Linked DNA regions of Homo sapiens: regions 1, 3, 4 and 5 are each reported to be linked to region 2. Evidence: microRNA targets listed by miRTarBase, many of them from high-throughput screens and not tested one by one. Region 2 holds a microRNA gene; each other region holds the end of a gene's coding sequence.
What was found. The annotated mature microRNA hsa-miR-3154 reads CAGAAGGGGAGUUGGGAGCAGA and lies in region 2 at 1,988-2,009, opposite strand. An mRNA with a match to its seed (bases 2 to 7 or 8) in the 3' UTR can be bound and repressed. Matches are read on the target gene's strand: a 7mer-m8 pairs with bases 2 to 8, a 7mer-A1 pairs with bases 2 to 7 and ends in A, and an 8mer does both.

Region 1: miRTarBase lists CRCP as a target of hsa-miR-3154. The part of its 3' UTR that is shown has no 7-base or 8-base seed match.
Region 3: the mRNA of RPAP1 is a reported target of hsa-miR-3154. Seed matches in the 3' UTR shown: 7mer-m8 at 1,166-1,172.
Region 4: the mRNA of ZNF467 is a reported target of hsa-miR-3154. Seed matches in the 3' UTR shown: 7mer-m8 at 1,240-1,246.
Region 5: miRTarBase lists TRMT9B as a target of hsa-miR-3154. The part of its 3' UTR that is shown has no 7-base or 8-base seed match.

What each region holds. Positions count from the first base shown.
Region 1 is chr7:66,151,560-66,155,124 of GRCh38, reverse strand. It overlaps CRCP (CGRP receptor component), which reads right to left. Exons shown (of 6, transcript NM_014478.5): 6 at 557-2,917. The coding sequence ends at 2,768. Among named protein-coding and RNA genes, the nearest start is that of CRCP, 38 kb to the right of the region's middle.
Region 2 is chr9:128,242,969-128,246,533 of GRCh38, forward strand. MIR3154 (microRNA 3154) reads right to left here and starts at 2,062; the gene lies at 1,979-2,062. DNM1 (dynamin 1) reads left to right here. Exons shown (of 22, transcript NM_004408.4): 16 at 3,426-3,535. It overlaps MIR199B (microRNA 199b), which reads right to left and starts at 1,862; the gene lies at 1,753-1,862.
Region 3 is chr15:41,514,869-41,518,433 of GRCh38, reverse strand. RPAP1 (RNA polymerase II associated protein 1) reads left to right here. Exons shown (of 25, transcript NM_015540.4): 23 at 252-428; 24 at 577-636; 25 at 743-1,258. The coding sequence ends at 892. Among named protein-coding and RNA genes, the nearest start is that of LTK, 2.8 kb to the right of the region's middle.
Region 4 is chr7:149,761,940-149,765,504 of GRCh38, reverse strand. ZNF467 (zinc finger protein 467) reads left to right here. Exons shown (of 5, transcript NM_207336.3): 5 at 1-1,323. The coding sequence ends at 791. Among named protein-coding and RNA genes, the nearest start is that of ZNF467, 9.9 kb to the left of the region's middle.
Region 5 is chr8:13,021,051-13,024,525 of GRCh38, reverse strand. It overlaps TRMT9B (tRNA methyltransferase 9B (putative)), which reads right to left. Exons shown (of 5, transcript NM_020844.3): 5 at 1-3,475. The coding sequence ends at 2,482. The region is part of intron 3 of LOC124901889 (a long non-coding RNA gene); the gene reads left to right. Among named protein-coding and RNA genes, the nearest start is that of TRMT9B, 77 kb to the right of the region's middle.

The sequences.
Region 1 (3,565 bases), not on the chromosome of region 2:
TGATCCACCCTCCTTGGCCTCCCAAAGTGCTGGGATTACAGGCGTGAGCCACTGAGCCTGGCCAATTTTTATTTCTGAAACATTTATTATTAATGTGATGGGAAAATTACACAGAATATATGTTCATTTCTTATAAAGTTAAGTCTTCCAGAACCTGGTTTAACAAAAAACTGAGGTTAAATTCAGGTCTCAAATATAGAAACTTAAACTTTTCTTGAAATCCAATTAAAAATGTAGATCTAGGCTGGGCGAGGTGGCTCACGCCTGTAATCCCAGCACTTTGGGAGGCTGAGGTGGGCAAGGTCAGGAGATTGAGACCATCCTGGCTAACACGGTGAAACCCTGTCTCTACTAAAAAATACAAAAAATTAGCCCAGCTACTCGGGAGGCAGAGGAAGGCGAATGGCATGAACCCAGGAGGCGGAGCTTGCAGTGAGCCTAGATGGCGCCACTGCACTCCAGCCTGGGTGACAGAGCGAGACTCCGTCTCAAAAAAAAAAAAAAAAAAAAAAAGTAGATCTAAATAGAGTCAGTCTTTTAAGAAAAAAATCACACATTTTAGCCTCAGTCAGATTTCACTTTATTTGTATCGATGACAATATTAACTCTTCAGATTTATAAAATGACAAAACTTGATAATTACCTGGAAACAATTTATTATTAACTAGGTTAACCCTAAATCCATCAAGAAAAACCACCTAACATATTCAGTGTTAAAAAGAGACATTACGACTAGCCTGGCCAATATGGCAAAACCCTGTCTCTACTAAAAATACAAATTTTAGCAGGGTATAGTGGTACGTGCCTGTAAGTCCCAGCTACTCAGGAGGCTAAGGCACCAGAATCGCTTGAATCTGGGAGGCAGAGGTTGCAGTGAGCAGAGATCGTGCCACTGCACTCCTGGGCAACACAGCGAGACTGTCTCAAAAAAAAAAAAAAAAAAGAGAGAGACAACAATGAGACAGATTGGCACATGTATGCCCTGAGAAATAAATCAACAGCTCCCACTAAAATTCTCAATACGCTAGACAGATTTAAAAGTACAATCTGGTACTTTCTCTTTTTTGAGATGGAGTCTCACCCTGTCGGCCAGGCTGGAGTGCAATGCACGATCTGGCTCACTGCAACCTCTGCCTCCCCGGTTCAAGCGATTCCCCCGCCTCAGCCTCCCGAGTAGCTGGGATCACAGGCATGCAACACCACGCTCGGCTAGTTTTTTATATCTTTAGTAGAGATGGGGGTTTCACCATGTTGGCCAGGCTGGTCTTGAACTCCTGACCTCATGATCCGCTAGCCTCCGCCTCCCAAAGTGCTGGGATTACAGGTGTGGGCCGCTACACCTGGCCCCAATCTGGTACTTTCAATGTTGCCTATAAACAGATTTCAGCTGAAGCTCAGATGGTAAGGTTAAGATGCCTGGGGACTGGGATGGATGGACGGGCAGGAGGGTTGGAAGAGAAGTAATCCAATTAGCATTGAAAATAAGAGCGCCAATTTGGAAAATCGAATGTCTATGATCATTTTCTTCCCTAAAACAGGGAAGAAAGTGAATGTGGAAAATCCGATTTTCAGCAATATTCGCAGGACCTAAGGCAACAACCACATGCCTGGGGCAACTATACTTTCCAAATCCTGAATATTAAAAAGGTTTTCACATGGTAATCATCTTAATATTTTCTGTTTTTTAGATGAAGTTTTGCTCTTGTTGCCCAGGCTGGAGTGCAATGGTGCAATCTTGGCTCACCTCAACCTCTGCCTCCCGGGTTCAAGCGATTCTCCTGCCTCGGCCTCCCGAGTAGCTGGGATTACAGGAATGTGCCATCACCCCTGGTTAATTTTGTATTTTTTTAGTAGAGATGGGGTTTTTCCATGTTGGTGAGGCTGGTCTCAAACTCCTGACCTCAGGTGATCCGCCTGCCTTGCCCTCCCAAAGTGCTGGGATTACAAGCATGAGTCACCGTGCCAGGCTAATTGTGTCCTTTTTAAAGGAACAAACAATTTGACTGTTGTGCAAATGAGGCTTACCTGGTCTGAATATGAAGCACCTGCCCTGGGCTGCTGTCTCAGGGCAGGAAAGTGGGGTGGTCAGAAAGGCAGCCAACACTGTTTCTGCTGCCACTGTCACTAAGCCTGGAGTGCCCGTTTTCAACTGCAGTGATCTGGTCCCTAACATTTAGCCTAAACAGTGAGCTGGTAAACAAAGCCCCTGCCAGCAGAGAAAAGGGGCTCTAGAGCTGTTGAAGGATTGGCCAGGCCGGTTCTTTTCTTATCTCTGTTGTTCTCGAGGAAATTCCTCTAAGGTGAGCCAAGGTCAGTGGCTCATTTTAACTTAGAGTAACTCTCTGGGGACTCTAACCAGACTTCCAACAGTGCTCTGGGCCCCTTAGTAAGTTCCCAGGGAAGCAGATGAAACTAATTAGGACATGGCCCACCAAAGGCGACACAAGCATTTTCCCCGCTGTGCACAGAGACCTCCCCACAACTGGGGCAAAGGCCGTGGAGGAAATCTTTCAAGCACAGAGGGGTCCGCGGTCACTGTCCCCACCTTCAGCTCTCTGCCCTGACAACCTCAGCCTGTTTTCACCATGTTTCTTCTCCCCAAGGCACAAATATTTCTTTTTAACTTATTTTTGTGATGTACCCAACTAACCACAAAGCCAGGCCTGCTGGGATGAGGATAAAAATCAAATAAACAATCCTCTCAACGTCCAGGAAATGGCTGCCAGGCCTTCTGACTTCATGAAACGCCGGGGCCAGCTGTGCTCTTCTATGCTGGGTCCTCTTCGTCCATTGCCACATTGCTGTTTGTATTCTTCTTCTGCTCAGCCTCTGGCTCTGCAGGCAGAATGCTGGTGACGGTGTGGAGAAGAGCTTCAATCTGCTCCTCCGTGAGCCGCTCTTCACTCTCTTCCACCATCTGCAGAAGGAAAGAAAATCCTCCAGGGTTACAAATGAAACTTACAGCCTTGGGCAGCCCTGCCCACTGTGCTCATGGTCTCAGCCCGGCCTCCTGGCACACAGACCTCACAGCCTGGGTCCTCGTGAGTCCTCTCCATCTTACAGACGGAAGGGTGGAGCCAAGTCACATCCTGGACTGAGCCAATGCGACTGATCAAAATGGGTCAGTAAAAACCAAGTTGTAGGATAGCATTTTTCTTTAAAGAAAAGGAAAACCCCCAGCCTGGGAAGCACAGAGGAACCCCATCTCTTAAAAACAAACAAAAAAAATCAACCAAGCATGGTGGTGTGTGCCAATAGTCCCAGCTACTTGGGGGGCTGAGGTGGGAGGATCACTTGAGCCCAGGAGGTCGAGCCAAGCACTCCAGCCTGGGTGACAGAGCAAGACTTTGTCTAAAAAAAAAAAAAAAAAAAGAAAAGAAAAAAAGGAAAAAGCTAAGTTATATAACCACACACACACACACACACACACACACACACACACACACACACAGAGAGAAGTGGTGAACAGGTTGCATATGCATCTCGAAGAAGTTAAATGGCACTTTATGTACTTTTATATTTCACAAGCACATCTGTAATTTTTTTTTTGGGGGGGCAGGACAGA
Region 2 (3,565 bases):
CCCGCTGCAGGGCGTGCCGCCTCCTCTGTGGCCCCCACAGGCCCATGACACACACAAGTCTAGCTGCCAGACACCCGGTTAACCCCTGCACCCCAGTCCCCTAGACCCCTGCAGTCCAAGGGAAATGACCAGGGTGCCCTCAGGCTGAGGGGCAAGGAGTGTGGGGGCCCTGCCGAGGTGCCACAAAAAACCCCTCCCCGCCCACTAGGGTGCACAGAAGCCCCTGCCACCTCCTTCCCCTGTTGCTGGTCTCCTTTAAGAATGAGTCTATTTGGCTTTCACATCTGGATTCCAGAGGTGACCAGAGAGAATGGGGAGGGCTGGGGGTGGGCTTGTGGTAATGAACTCCAGCTGGCCAAGGAGTGGGGGAAGGGACCCTCTTCTTCCTGAGGGGGCTGTTGGAGGCTACAGCATCCTCAACGGGGGAGCGGGGCTCTGGGTGGGGCCTGTGATTTTGGCCTCCAAGCCCCCTCCCAGGTCCCTGTCTCCTCCAAGTTTGTCCTGGGCAGGGGCCCCAACTCTCCACCTTGGGAGGGGCCCTCTGTCGTCACTGGCGGGGGCGCCAAGCCATCTGGACCTCATTACCCCAACCCTGGCCTCCCCCACCATGGGGGCCCCTGGAAGGGATGGAGTGTGCAGTGGCATGGGGTGCGGGTGGGGGGTGGCTTCCTGCCGGTCTCTCTGCAGGCTCCCTAGATGCCCCCATGGGTTTGGGGTCTCCCATGTTGAGGTTCCTTACTCAGGGCCAGGGAGACCATGTGACCTGGGGCTGAGGGCCGGAGACCGGGTGACACTGTGGGGGAGGGGCACGTGCCACTGAGGGGGTCCCCTGATCTCATGCCTGAGCCTGCAGGCCTTTCTGGAGCTTTTGTGTACATCTGAGTTAAGTCGTGTGCGAAAACAGCTCTGAGAATCATATGTGGGGAGATGGGAGTCAGCTGTGGGCTGTGGGTGCTGGGAGGCGGGGTGTGTTTGTGTGTGTGTGTGTGTGTGTGTGTGTGGCTTGTGGGTCTGGTGTGTGGGTGTTTTTTAGGAGTGTGATTGGAGTATAAGCATCTAGGTGTGTTTGGAATATGTGGTCTGCATTTGCATCTGGGGGTGAAATCTGTGTGCCTGGGGAGTGACTCTGGGCACCTGCCTGTGCTTGGGGTGTAAAAGCAGGTGTGTGTGGGGAGGGGGCTCTAGGAGGGAGGGTGTGAGTATGGGGTGTTTGAGAATCTGTGTATGTCTTTGGGATGTGAGGATGGGGGGAGTGTTCCAGTTGTGAGGGTGTGTATGGGTGTGTGTGCATGCACTTGTGTGTGTCCGTGTGGGACATGGGTGTGAGATTGAAAGTGTGGGGGTGCTCATGTGTGTGAGTTCTGGGGCTGTGAGTGTCAAGGTGCGTGTGTGTTGAATGTGAGTGGATTCTTGCACTAGGACCACTGGGGATGTGGAGGTGGTCCAGGCTGGTGGGAGAGTGGTCTGTACTTCTCTACTCAACCACCAGCCCTCAGGTTTTGGGGTGAGGGAGGCTCTTTGGGCAGACCGGCGGCTGCCCACATCCCCAGTCCCCATTGACCCCCCCATCCTCTCAGTCTTCCTCGGCCACCCTTCCCCCATCACCGCTACCCCCAACCAGTCCCACACAGGGTGGCACCCCCATCCATCTGTGCCTCCTCCCAGCCCGCCCTGTGCCCCAACCCCCTGGCTCCAGGCTCCGGTTCTGGGATGGCAGGCAGGGGTCGGTCCAGCTCTCCAGTGGCGGCGGTGCCGAGGGTCTAACCCAGCCCAGCCTAACCAATGTGCAGACTACTGTACAATTTGGGAGTCCTGAACAGATAGTCTAAACACTGGGTAGACGGAGTGGAGGTGTCCTCTGGTCCATCCAGGCAGCAGTGTCTGTCCATCCGGTGGGCGCTTCAGCCCCATCCCCTGGAGATCCGAGAACCCCCCAACCCCAGCCTGTGTCCCCCTAGCCCCAGACCAGCCAGCCCGTGGTCCCCTCTCTGCTCCCAACTCCCCTTCTGCCTCCTTTGACGTGGCAGGGGTGAGCGGGAGCTGGGGCTGAGAAGGAGGGGCCTGAGGAGGGGGCCGGCCGGCAGGAAGGGAGGGGTGGGGGGAGGAGGCCGCTCCTACCTAGTGTCCAACCCCGAAGCACAGGGCGGGTGGTGGCGGGGCCTCTCTCGAACGGTTCCAGATGTTCCCTGGCCGTGTGTGCAACTTCCTCCTCTCCTCCCCCAGCCGCCCTCTGGGGCTCCCGGCCACCCGCCTGGCATAAAGAGGGCTTTATGTGGCTGCATGGGCCAGGGGGGCGTTGGGGGCAGAGAGGGGTGGGCGGGATGACGCCAGGACGGGGGAGCAAGGTCCCCCTAAACCCAGCCCCCCACCTGAGATCCTAGGCAAGGCTCATGCCCAACCTCTTTGAGTCCCCGAGGCCCACACAGACGACCCCCGTGAACAAGTAGGGCATGGGTGACAAAAACCCCTCCCCTCTCCCAGAGCCCCATCCTGGGGTACCTCCTCCCTAGATCCCTGAACCCCTCCCCTGGGACACAGCAGCCTACATACACATGTGCCCACACCGAGCACACACATGGGCCTAGCACCCCACACGCCTGTGCACAGATACACATAACTCCTCCCAGACAGCTCTAGATAAATCAAACACACAGCCCATTGTACCACGGTGTGCAGGTAAGATGTGTACCCCAGTATAAGTCCACAGGCATGGCTCTGCAAACATGTAGGCTCGCACAATTGCCACACACATCCACAAAGTGTGCACACATCCACACTGAGATGCAGACACGCTGACACCGACACATGGTTCATGCTGGGCACCTCCCCAGATACACATGTGCACACACACACAATAGCTGATAGGATATGTACTTGGGCTTGCATGTGTTGGCACAAACACACAACTACACACATGTTGCACACACAGGCACACCATCTCCAGGCTTGTGCTGGCTGCCTTATTGCTAACACATGGGGAGCTCGGGGGAGTGGGCTGAGCCGGCCCTTTGAAGCCGCCGGGTCTGGTGGCCCCCCTTCCTGGTCTCTGCAGTCAGGAAATGAAGTCAGAGGCGGCCAGGCCGGGGGTGAGAGAGGCCTGAGTGTGCGGTCCCTGCCTGAGGCTGGCCTGGCTTGTATCCAGGACTTGCCTGGGGAGGGATTTTGGGAGCCACTCTCAGCCTCCCCACCCCTCACCAGCCCCCTGGCCCCCGGCATATATGCAGAGCTGGTAGGACTGGCTCTGCGGGGGTCGGCGGTGCCCAGGAGGCCTACGGTCCGTGGCCAGGCTTTTATCTAGCTGCACCTTCGCAGTGGGAGGGGGCTGATGCTTAGAAGCCCTGGGCCAGTCAGGGGGACTCTTAGAGAGTGAGGTGTGGCAGAGAACAGTGCCAACCTCACCCCATTGCTCCTACCTGCACCCACAGGAGAAAGAGAAGAAATACATGCTGTCTGTGGACAACCTCAAGCTGCGGGACGTGGAGAAGGGCTTTATGTCGAGCAAGCATATCTTTGCCCTCTTTAACACGGAGCAGAGGTGCCTGCCTGCCCCTGGCTGTGGCTGCTG
Region 3 (3,565 bases), not on the chromosome of region 2:
TGAGATTACAGGCGTGGCCCACTACACATGGCCAATTTCATGCTTTTTAATGGCTGCTTCTCAGTTCCCAGTTTTCCCCAACATCTGCTCTGTAGTCTTTAACCCTGATCCTTGTGCTAGAAGGACAGATGTTTGTCTAGGACCTGATCTCTGCCCTCATGATTTGGTTTCATGTGATCGTTATCCACACACCTTATGTATGTATATACATTCCTACCCTCCCCCTCAGCACGTCATTTCCCCTGTCACAGTTGCCTGTGTCCCTGGAGTGTTACACAGTGCCTCCTGAAGACAACCTGGCCCTCCTTCAGCTCTACTTCCGGACCCTGGTTACTGGTGCGCTCCGCCCACGTTGGTGCCCCGTGCTCTATGCTGTGGCTGTGGCTCATGTCAATAGCTTCATCTTCTCTCAGGACCCACAGAGCTCAGTAAGTTACATCTCCATCTTCAGAGGAAGGAAGGGAGCTAGCAATTGAGCTGCCTCTGGGCCAGCTGGGGAAGAGGTAAGTGTCAAGCAAGGCCAGTGGTGGGTACCAGCCCTCGGCTCAGTGCCACCTCTCCCTGTTCTGCTTCTAGGATGAGGTCAAAGCTGCCCGCAGGAGTATGCTGCAGAAAACATGGCTGCTGGCAGATGAGGTAGGGTCAGGGCCATTAGGAGGGTGGGATATTAGAGGATCTTGGGGGACAGAGACCACAACAGGATCTCATTACCCACTTCATAAGTTTTCTTTCCTTTCTGCAGGGTCTCCGGCAGCACCTCCTGCACTATAAGCTTCCCAATTCCACGCTCCCAGAGGGCTTTGAGCTCTATTCTCAGTTGCCCCCTCTGCGTCAGCACTACCTCCAGAGACTGACTTCAACAGTGCTCCAAAATGGGGTATCAGAGACCTAGGATAGTTGATATAGATGGAAAGATGGGTACGTTGTCCTGTATCCAGCCTTTCAACAGATGTCTGGCCAGACGAAGAACATTGTGTCCTAATGGTAGGCAGGAGACCAAGGAGCAGAAGGCTTGCCTTCCTGGGAGCAGGTTGTTTGAGCTGTTTTAGAGCAGTGAGCCCTACCATTACATCCTGATATCTGGGGCTTCTGAAGGTCTGTACTGGGAGTGAAGAGTGGCTTAGCTATTTACCCGCTCTTTGGGGACAGGGCAAACTAAATGCATCCCTTCTTACCTAACTCCCAACCCCTGCCCTGGGCTGAGGCATATGAATGCTATAGTTGTGCATTAAAATAAATGTTTTTTATCTCCTGGAAATTTGATCTGGACTGATTTCAGCCATGTTAGTTCAGGGTTAGTATCTGGGGGTGGGTTATCCCAGGTGAGGAGCAGGACTGCTGTGAGAGAGATGGGGAAGAATCATAAGTGGGAGGTAAAAACTTTGTCCACATCTGGAGACAACAAGAATGTGGGGCCTGCCAGGCACAGTGGTACACACCTGTAGTCCCAACTACTTGGGAGGCTGAGGCAGGATGATCACTTGATTCCAGGAATTCAATTCCAGCCTAGCCAACATAGTGAGACCCCATGTCTGTCTGTCTGTCGGTCGGTCGGTCTGTCTATCTATCTATCTATCTATCTATCTATCTATCTATCTATCTATTTCTGAGACAGGGTCTTGCTCTGTTGCCCAGGCTGGAGTGCAGTGGCGTGATCATAGCTCACTGCAGCCTCGACCTCCTGGGCTCAAGCCATTCTCCCACCTCAGCCTCCTGAGTGGCTGGGACCACAGGCAAGTGCCACCACGCCTGGCTAATTTTTTGTATTTGTAGAGACGGAGTTTCACCATGTTGCCCAGGTTGGTCTTGAATTCCTGAGCTCAAGCAATCCACCCACCTCAGACTCCCAAAGTGCTAAGATTACAGGCATGAGCCGCTACACTTGGCCTATTTTGGTAGTTTCTACATTGTTCTTTGGTCTGAATTCTAAACTTTAGGCTTTCTTAGACTGTCTTTTGCTGTGTGGATTACTTATTGTGTTTGCAAGTAACCAGAGTCAGAGCAGTGTGCCAAGGCCTAGCCCTGTCAGTAGGTAGAGAGAACCCAGTCTTCATAAATGGAGCTGCTGAACACAGAATTATCCAATAGGTTTTTTTGGGTTTTTTTTTTTTTTTTTTTGACACGAAGTCTTGCTCTGTTGCCCAGGCTGGAGTGCAGTGGGGCAATCTCAGCTCACCACAACCTCCCCCTCCCTAGTTCAAGCCATTCTCCTGCCTCAGCCTCCCAAGTAGCTGGGATTACAGGCGCGTGCCACCACGCCTGGCTAATTTTTGTATTTTTAGTAGAGATGGGGTTTTGCCATGTTGGCCAGGCTGGTCTTGAACTCGAACTCCTGACCTCATGATCCGCCCGCCTCAGCCTTCAAAAGTGCTGGTATTACAGGCATGAGCCACTGGGCCCAGCCTTTTTTTCTTTTTTTTTTTTGAGACAGAGTCTTACTCTGTAGCCCAAGCCAGAGTGTAGTGGCATGATCTTGGCTCACTGCAACCTCCGTTTCTGAGGCTCAAGTGATTCTCATGCCTCAGCCTCCCGAGTAGCAGGGGCTACAGGCATGCACCACCACACCGGGCTAGTTTTTTGTATTTTTATTAGAAGCGGTGTTTTGCCATGTTGCCCAGGGTGGTCTCAGACTCCTAAGCTCAGGCAATCCGCCCACCTCAGCCTCCTAAAGTGCTGGGATTATAAGTGTGAGCCACAGCATGTGGCCCCAATAGGTTTTATTAAGCAACTACTGTATCAGCAAATACCAATGATTCTCAAACTTTGTGACAAAAATCATCTGGAGGATATTTTAAAACAGATCACTGGGTCCTACCACCAGAAGCTGCTGATTCAGTACATCTGGGGTGAAACCCAAGAATCTGCATTTCTAACAAGTTCCCAGGTAATACTGATGCTGATGTTCAGAACAAACCACACAACCACAATTTGAAGAGCAGTGGCTTAAAGAGACTTTGCAAGGTAAATTCTGTGATCTCATAGTGTGATATCTAGTGTTAAGTAGGGCATAGAGACCAGGGTTTTTTTGTTTTTTGTTTTTTTTGAGATGGAGTCTCACTCTGTCACCCAGGCTGGAGTGTAGTGGTGCAATCTCGGCTCACTGCAACCTCTGCCTTCCAGGTTCAAGCAATTCTCTGCCTCAGCCTCCCAAGTAGCTGGGATTACAGGCACCTGCCACCACGCACGGCTAATTTTTGTATTTTTAGTAGAGACGGGGTTTCACCATCTTAGCCAGGCTGGTCTTGAACTCCTGACCTTGTGATCCACCCCACCCCCACCGTCCCCTTGGCCTCCCAAAGTGCTGGGATTACAGGTGTAAGCCACCACGCCTGGCTGAGACCAGACTTTTTACAAAATCACTGTTCTGTTTACACCTTGAATTATACTCAGACTTTACCAAGTAGCTAACTACTATAACTTCTCTTTTGAAGTATTTTGTATTAAACATAGGTCTCAGACTTTCAAGTTAGGATTTTTTTTTTTTTTTTTTTTTTGAGATGGGGCTTTGCTCTTGTTGCCCAGGCTGGAGTGCAATGGTGCGATCTCGTCTCTGCAACCTCTGCCT
Region 4 (3,565 bases), not on the chromosome of region 2:
ACTCGTCCGCTTCTCCTCATTCCACTGCCCCGTCCCCGACCCCATCCTTTCCCGGGCCAAAGCCTTTCGCGTGCTCCGACTGCGGCTTGAGCTTCGGCTGGAAAAAGAACCTCGCCACGCACCAGTGTCTGCACCGCAGCGAGGGTCGCCCCTTTGGGTGCGATGAGTGCGCACTGGGCGCCACCGTGGATGCCCCCGCCGCCAAGCCCCTGGCCAGCGCGCCTGGCGGACCGGGCTGCGGCCCAGGATCCGATCCCGTGGTGCCCCAGCGCGCCCCCTCGGGCGAGCGGTCCTTCTTCTGCCCGGACTGCGGGCGCGGCTTCTCCCATGGGCAGCACCTGGCGCGGCACCCGCGCGTGCACACGGGCGAACGGCCCTTCGCCTGCACGCAGTGTGACCGCCGCTTCGGCTCGCGGCCTAATCTGGTCGCCCACTCCAGGGCCCACAGCGGCGCCAGGCCTTTCGCCTGCGCTCAGTGCGGCCGCCGCTTCAGCCGCAAGTCGCACCTGGGCCGCCACCAGGCGGTGCACACTGGCAGCCGCCCCCACGCCTGCGCCGTCTGCGCCCGCAGCTTCAGCTCCAAAACCAACCTAGTCCGCCACCAGGCGATCCACACAGGCTCCCGCCCCTTCTCCTGCCCGCAGTGCGGAAAGAGCTTCAGCCGCAAGACCCACCTGGTGCGGCACCAGCTCATTCACGGCGAAGCCGCCCACGCGGCCCCGGACGCCGCCCTTGCGGCCCCAGCCTGGTCCGCTCCCCCCGAGGTGGCGCCGCCCCCGCTCTTCTTCTGAGCCTAGTTCTCACGAGGACCCTTTCTTGCCCACAGTTTCGAGAGGCCCGTGCCATGAGACCGCCTGGGGTGAGCAAGGCGACCTGGGCTGCTGCCCGAAGGTTTGGCCGCCGCGGGACACCTGTTTCCTTCCCGCAGTGTCTGCGTCCGCACAGCATACCCAGCTCGGACCTCCTAGGACAGAGACTCAGCGAACCCTTGCTGGGAACCGCTGAGCTGAAGTTCTTGGAAGGCTCCCACCCAGGTGCCCCGTTGGAAAGCAGATATTTCCCGGACCCAGCGCGGCCTCAACCAGGGCAGGAAAGAGTGGTTATTTATGTACTTAAAGTTTCATTAAAGTTAAAATCGGAAAGTTCTGGGGCTGCTAAATGAATTGGGGGAGGGAACACCTGACTCTCCTTAGCCACTGTCCCACCTCCATCCACACACAGACCACCCCCCTCCACTTCCCCTTCTGTCCTGGGTGAGTTACATTTAGCCAGCTGCTGTTAATTGGTTCTCCCAAATAAAAATGTAATATATTTATTCACTAAGCCACCATCCTGGCTCCTGCTTCTAGCTCGGAAGTATAAGGAAGGAAGATTGGGGTGCATTTCTCTCACGCCACGTGTCACCGACTAGAGCTGAAGGGGGGCAGGCCGTCCTTTGGCGTGGGCTTGGGAGCTCTGTGTGGTCTCCGCAACTCTCCTGGGGGATTCGGAGCTCGGTGGCGTGAGGAAGGAGGTGGCACATCCACTGCAGATGAAGGTTGCTTTCACATCGCACTTGCAACAAGTCCTTTCTTAAGGCTGCTGGGTCCAGAAGTCTCTGTATTGCCCTTCTCCAGCCCACGCAGGTATGAGAGCTAGGGCTGCCTGGCCGTGAACGGGGAGGGTAGGACGATGGGGAGCCTATGGAGCTTGCAGTGAGTAGTCTTGGGTTTGACCCCCCTCTGCCTCTCGTGGGACTTGGAGCGCAGCATTATTCATTTCCCAGTGAGCGGGGATGAGAGGCCAGAGCAGTGGCCTGAGAGATGAAGGGGTCTTTCACACCTGTGAAGCAGTTTAGACCGTGTCCAAGGGAGGGGGAACCATGGCAAGGTTAGGCGGGGCAGGAACAGGGCCACGCTCACATTCCTGAAGTTTGGAAAGATGTTTGGCTAGACAACTCGGGAGCGAAATTGGAGGCCTGCGCATCAGTTGTCCTGGTGACAGGTTGTGGTGACCTGGGACCATAGTTGTGTCAGAGGAGACAGAGAAGTGATGGATTCAAGAGACACTTAATAGGCAGAGGATACAGGACCTGTTGACTAGTGTGGGTCGGGGAATCAATGAGCTCAGCCCGATTTCTGTTTGACACTGACTGGATGACAGTGGCATACTCCCAGAAGGGAGACTCGGTGTTGGGGGCAGCTTTGTGCTGGGGGAGTAGTCCTGGGTCTCCTGAGTTGTGAGCAGTGTGTGCCCAGCAGGAAGGAGGCTGTGTGGGTGGAGAGCTCAGGAGAGGGCCAGGCTGCAGACATACAGCTGAGAACTATCCGCATGTGCTTCTGAAGCTATGGGGGAGCGGATGATCTTCCCAAAGAACTGAGTGTGGAGTGAGAAATTGGGGGCCTGGGACAGAAGCCTCTGGGACACCAACATTAGGGGATGGCACCGAGAGAGGCCTGTAAACAAGATTGGAGAGTGCAGGTGCAAGGACTGGACAGGAAAGCCCCAGGTAGAGGTGATAGAGGAGCCGAGGAAAGACGCGCTTCAGGGAGGAGGAGGCCGCTGGAGGCTAGAGAGAGGTCACCTAGGCGAAGGGCTTCCAAACCCTTTGGATGTCGCTGCAAGCAAATCCAGTCTCGGTGACAGCAGCATCAGGAGCAGCTGGGTCAGAATTCAGATCACAATGGTGAACTACAAAAGCAAAATCCCAGAGAAGGTAGGAGACAATGAGACCTGGACACAGGTGAGGGAGGGGCGTTGGCTGGGAGGCCTGTCAGAGGATGCATGAATGCAGGCGTGTTTATAAGTTTCGTGGCCAAGAATGAGTTGGTGACTCCAGGTTATTTTAAATATCTTGAAATGTCACATAAAAATCTGGACTTCCATCTTCTGTTGTGAAAAAAGCAAAAGGTTTGGCAACTGGTGGCTGGAGCTGAGTGGAAGTTGTCCTCTTTGGACTAAGGGATCGGAGTCCTCAGCACTCCCCCTCGTCTTAAAGCCCAACTGGGCTTCTCCAAGGTTCCCTACCCAGCCTCTTAGGCACAGAGCTTGTGATTCCAGCTAAAAAAAAAGTCATTTCACAGACTTTTAAAATCAAACACATAAAAACAATGTTTGTGTTGGTTAGACCAATGTTTTCCTTTCTTGAAACATTCTGGAATTCTCGTGTAAGAACAGCTTTTAGATCTTACAGCATATTTGGTGAGGCCTACCATGTGCCAGACGTTTTCAGGATTTCACATTATTTTAAAGATTCTCTACAAGGCATGCATATCTTTGTCCTTATTTTTTAGCTTGTTTGCAAATAGTCAAAATTTGTTTAGCATCCAGTCTGGCAATAGCCAACTCAGAAGACGTCTGCTCAACAAATGCACCGTGTGATGGAAGACTGAGGTTTCTGAAGGCTCTTCCCAAGGAAGAGTTCTAGACTCAGAAAGTGGTGGCCTCACTAAAATCAATACCTACCATCACCACCCCTATGTCACCCCAGGTCTGAGCCACCCCAGGTACAACTACCTTGATAAGGCACCAAATTGTTGACTTTAGAACCACATCCTGGTGTGTGAAAATGCTCAGAGAAGTAAAG
Region 5 (3,475 bases), not on the chromosome of region 2:
GCAAGGCCAGGATTAAAAACCCATGTGACAATAGGCTTCAGAGAGAGGAACAATCCATTCATAATTCAAAGGCCGTCAAGCCCGAGTTGTAAGACCATTTTGACTCTGAGAATCTTTTCTTTTTACCAAGGAAATCCCTTGCAGTCATGGTTTAGTGTCCTGAATTAAGAAATAAAAGGAACAGGCCGGGCGCGGTGGCTCACGCCTGTAATCCCAGCACTGTGGGGGGCCGAGGCGGGTGGATCACGACGTCAGGAGATCGAGACCATCCTGGCTAACACGGTGAAACCCCGTCTCTCCTAAAAATACAAAAAAACAGCCGGGCGTCGTGGTGGGTGCCAGTAGTCCCAGCTACTTGGGAGGCTGAGGCAGGAGGATGGCGTGAACCCGGGAGGCGGAGCTTACAGTGAGCCGAGATCGCGCCAGTGCACTCCAGCCTGGGCGACAGAGCGAGACTCTGTCTCAAAAAAAAAAAAAAAAAAAAGAAATAGAAGAAACCAAATTAATTTTTAATTTATACTCCACTTATATATGTTTTCAATCATCCACTACTGCAGGATGTACACTGAACAGTACAACTCATATGCATCATTTTCACCAGACAACCTCATCTACCAAAATGGTGATAACACAATCTTATTTTGAAGCCAAAAGAGAGTTATAAACATCAATCGTTTTCAGATACGCTTTAAAAATATTTCTTTAAGTTTGTTCAAAAGTAACATCATTATTTTAAGTTATAGCACAATCATTAAAGGAAAAAAGAACCCAAGAACAAATGAAATTCGTTATTATTTTAGTCACTTTTAGTGGAAAAAATAAAACAAGATTTGGATTTTCATCCAGCATAAAGTAAAAAGACTCTTGTCAGATGTCAATTTTCTCATTAATGAACTACTTGAGACTGTACTCCTGGGTCAACTTATTTCTGCTTCTCCTGTCTCTAGACCTGTCTTAATTATATTTGTGTCTCAGGATCCATGACATAGATTTAAAGAGACCCATGGGCAAATCTAAACAGTGACCACACAGTGTCCAGTCTATTCGTTTCTCTACAAAGTGACAGAAATTCAACCTGTAATCAGTAGAAGTTGATTCTACCTAAATTCCTAATATAACTAATAAAATGTAGTCACCTTCAATAAAATAAATGCCCAGATACTATTTTAAAGGATACAGCAAATCCAAGTCATACCTCTACCAAGGCTAACTATGCTGTACCTTAATTTGTTTGTTCTCAGAGCTAAAATCAGTGCTTCACTTAGATTCTCCTTTCCTAAAGAGTCCGTCAACTCAGAAGAAATGCCTAGTTCTTGATGCAGACTCATCATTAGTCAATCTTGGTCTTGGATATTCATCCTTCTAATAAGCATGATTGATAACAATCTTGCTAATAAGCAATAGTAATATCAATCTTGAATATTCATGCTTCTAATAAGATTGGAAGAATACCACTTGGGTACTTGCATATAACTCCTACTACCTACATACTCCACTCCTTACAAGCTAACAACGCCTTTATTATTATTATTATTATTATTTTGAGACAGAGTCTTGCTATGTTGCCCAGGCTGCAGTGCAGTGATGCAATCATAGTTCACTGCAGCCTTGAATTCCTGGGCTCACGTGATCCTCCTGCCTCAGTCTCTTGAGTAGCTTGGATGACAGGCATGCACCACCACATCTTGCTAATTTTTATAGAGATGGGGTCTTGCTATGTTGCCCAGGCTATTCTTGAACTCCTGGGTTCAAGTGATCCTTCTGCCTTGGCCTCCCAAAGTGCTGGGATTACAGGCATGAGCCACCATGCTCAGCCTAACAGTGCCTTTAAAAACCTCCTGGGCTACATTGAAAACCTTATTATCACATGTCAACTTATTTTGAAGCAAGTTTGCTTATAATTTAGTAAAGTCCTTGTAAAACTTCTTGTTTCTCTCCACTGTCACTCAGTTTTCTGAAAACTTTAAGTAGAAGCAAGGCCTTGGCAACAAGATAACTCATCACATGGTTCAAAGTATATCTGTGCAATGGATCAAATTTACCTATTATCTTGCACACTGCTCTCAGTTATAACCTGAGAACCAGAAATTATCCCCTCACTTTATAAAAATACCGTTTTAAAAGATTATTTAACAGCATAATCTTTTTAAATCAATGTGTAATACTGAAAAACACTATACATGTATTTTATCTCTCTGGGGTTAAAAAAAAGTCTGAGGTGTACTGAAGGGTACTTTCTGTTGCTTCTTCAGATCTTGTATATTAACATTTAAGCACAAATACCCTTTGTCAAGTGCTTTCAATGCCAGAATCTGTGCTTATTCAAAAATGAAAACAAAACAACCAAATAATTAATAGTCTCTGCAGACCAAAGCGTAAATGGATTAACAAATAACACTGAATGCAAATTCAGGTAACCATATCAAACCAAGAGGAAAGAATGTGGTTCATCTTTTGGAGGAGTTGTCTAAAAGGATCCAATCAATCACAACCTCTCTTTTTCTCTGCAATGATACACCAGTTACCATGATCATTCCCAGAACTCAGGATACGGAGCTCTGACACATTCTCCTTGAGCAGACTGCAGAGCTCCCCTTCTCGAAACACATGGTAGTAGCGCATAAAGGCTGTGGAGTCCAAAACATCAGTCTGTGGATCTTCGACAGACATTGTATCATCTGGGTTGAAATCTGTGGAATCAACTGCAGAAATCCTTCTCAATATTTTACTAGCAGAAGGATTATCATCTTCTATGTTGCCTGCATCCACACAATTCACACCAGTATTAGTGCTATCCAGAAAATTTCCCCCTCCATTTCTCCTCATTTCCCCTTGATGGTCTCCATTTAAATGTTTCAGAGTGCCTGGTGCTCTCAGCCACTCCAAGTGTTTTCCAGAAGAAGATTCCACAAACACTTCCTCATCTAAACTTTGCCCTTTTGTTGAAAATGGCTCTTGGTGATCAAAGTCTAAACTAGAGTGTCTGGAAGGCTGGACTGTTACAGTGCTACTGGCCCAAACTTCTGTGTTTTTCAAGGGTCTTACTCTTTCAATTTGCTTCCTCAGAGTCGATTCATCCAAAGATCTGGAGAAAAACCAGGAACGAAACGATTTTCCTAATGTGCTGTAAAATCCATATTCTTCCTCGCCTTCCTTAGAAATATTTGCAAAACAGGTTCTTGCCATAGCAGGTTCATAGCCCACGCTGTGGGACCGTTTTGAACCACACTGCTCTTTAAAACAAACAGAACAGCTACACTCAGAGCAAGGAGGATGGTAGGGATGGCCTCTTTCTGGGTATCCACACTGCCTCTTCCTCCCAGACTGGCTGGACTCTGAGAAGAGCTGGGAACACAGAGCCCTGTTCCATGGAACAAGCACGTCTTGCTTCTCAAAGTGACGGTTCTTTTGTTCCATTGCCCAAACGTAAATCATCAGTTGGCCTCCGGGAACTAAGACCCTGGCCATTTCTTTT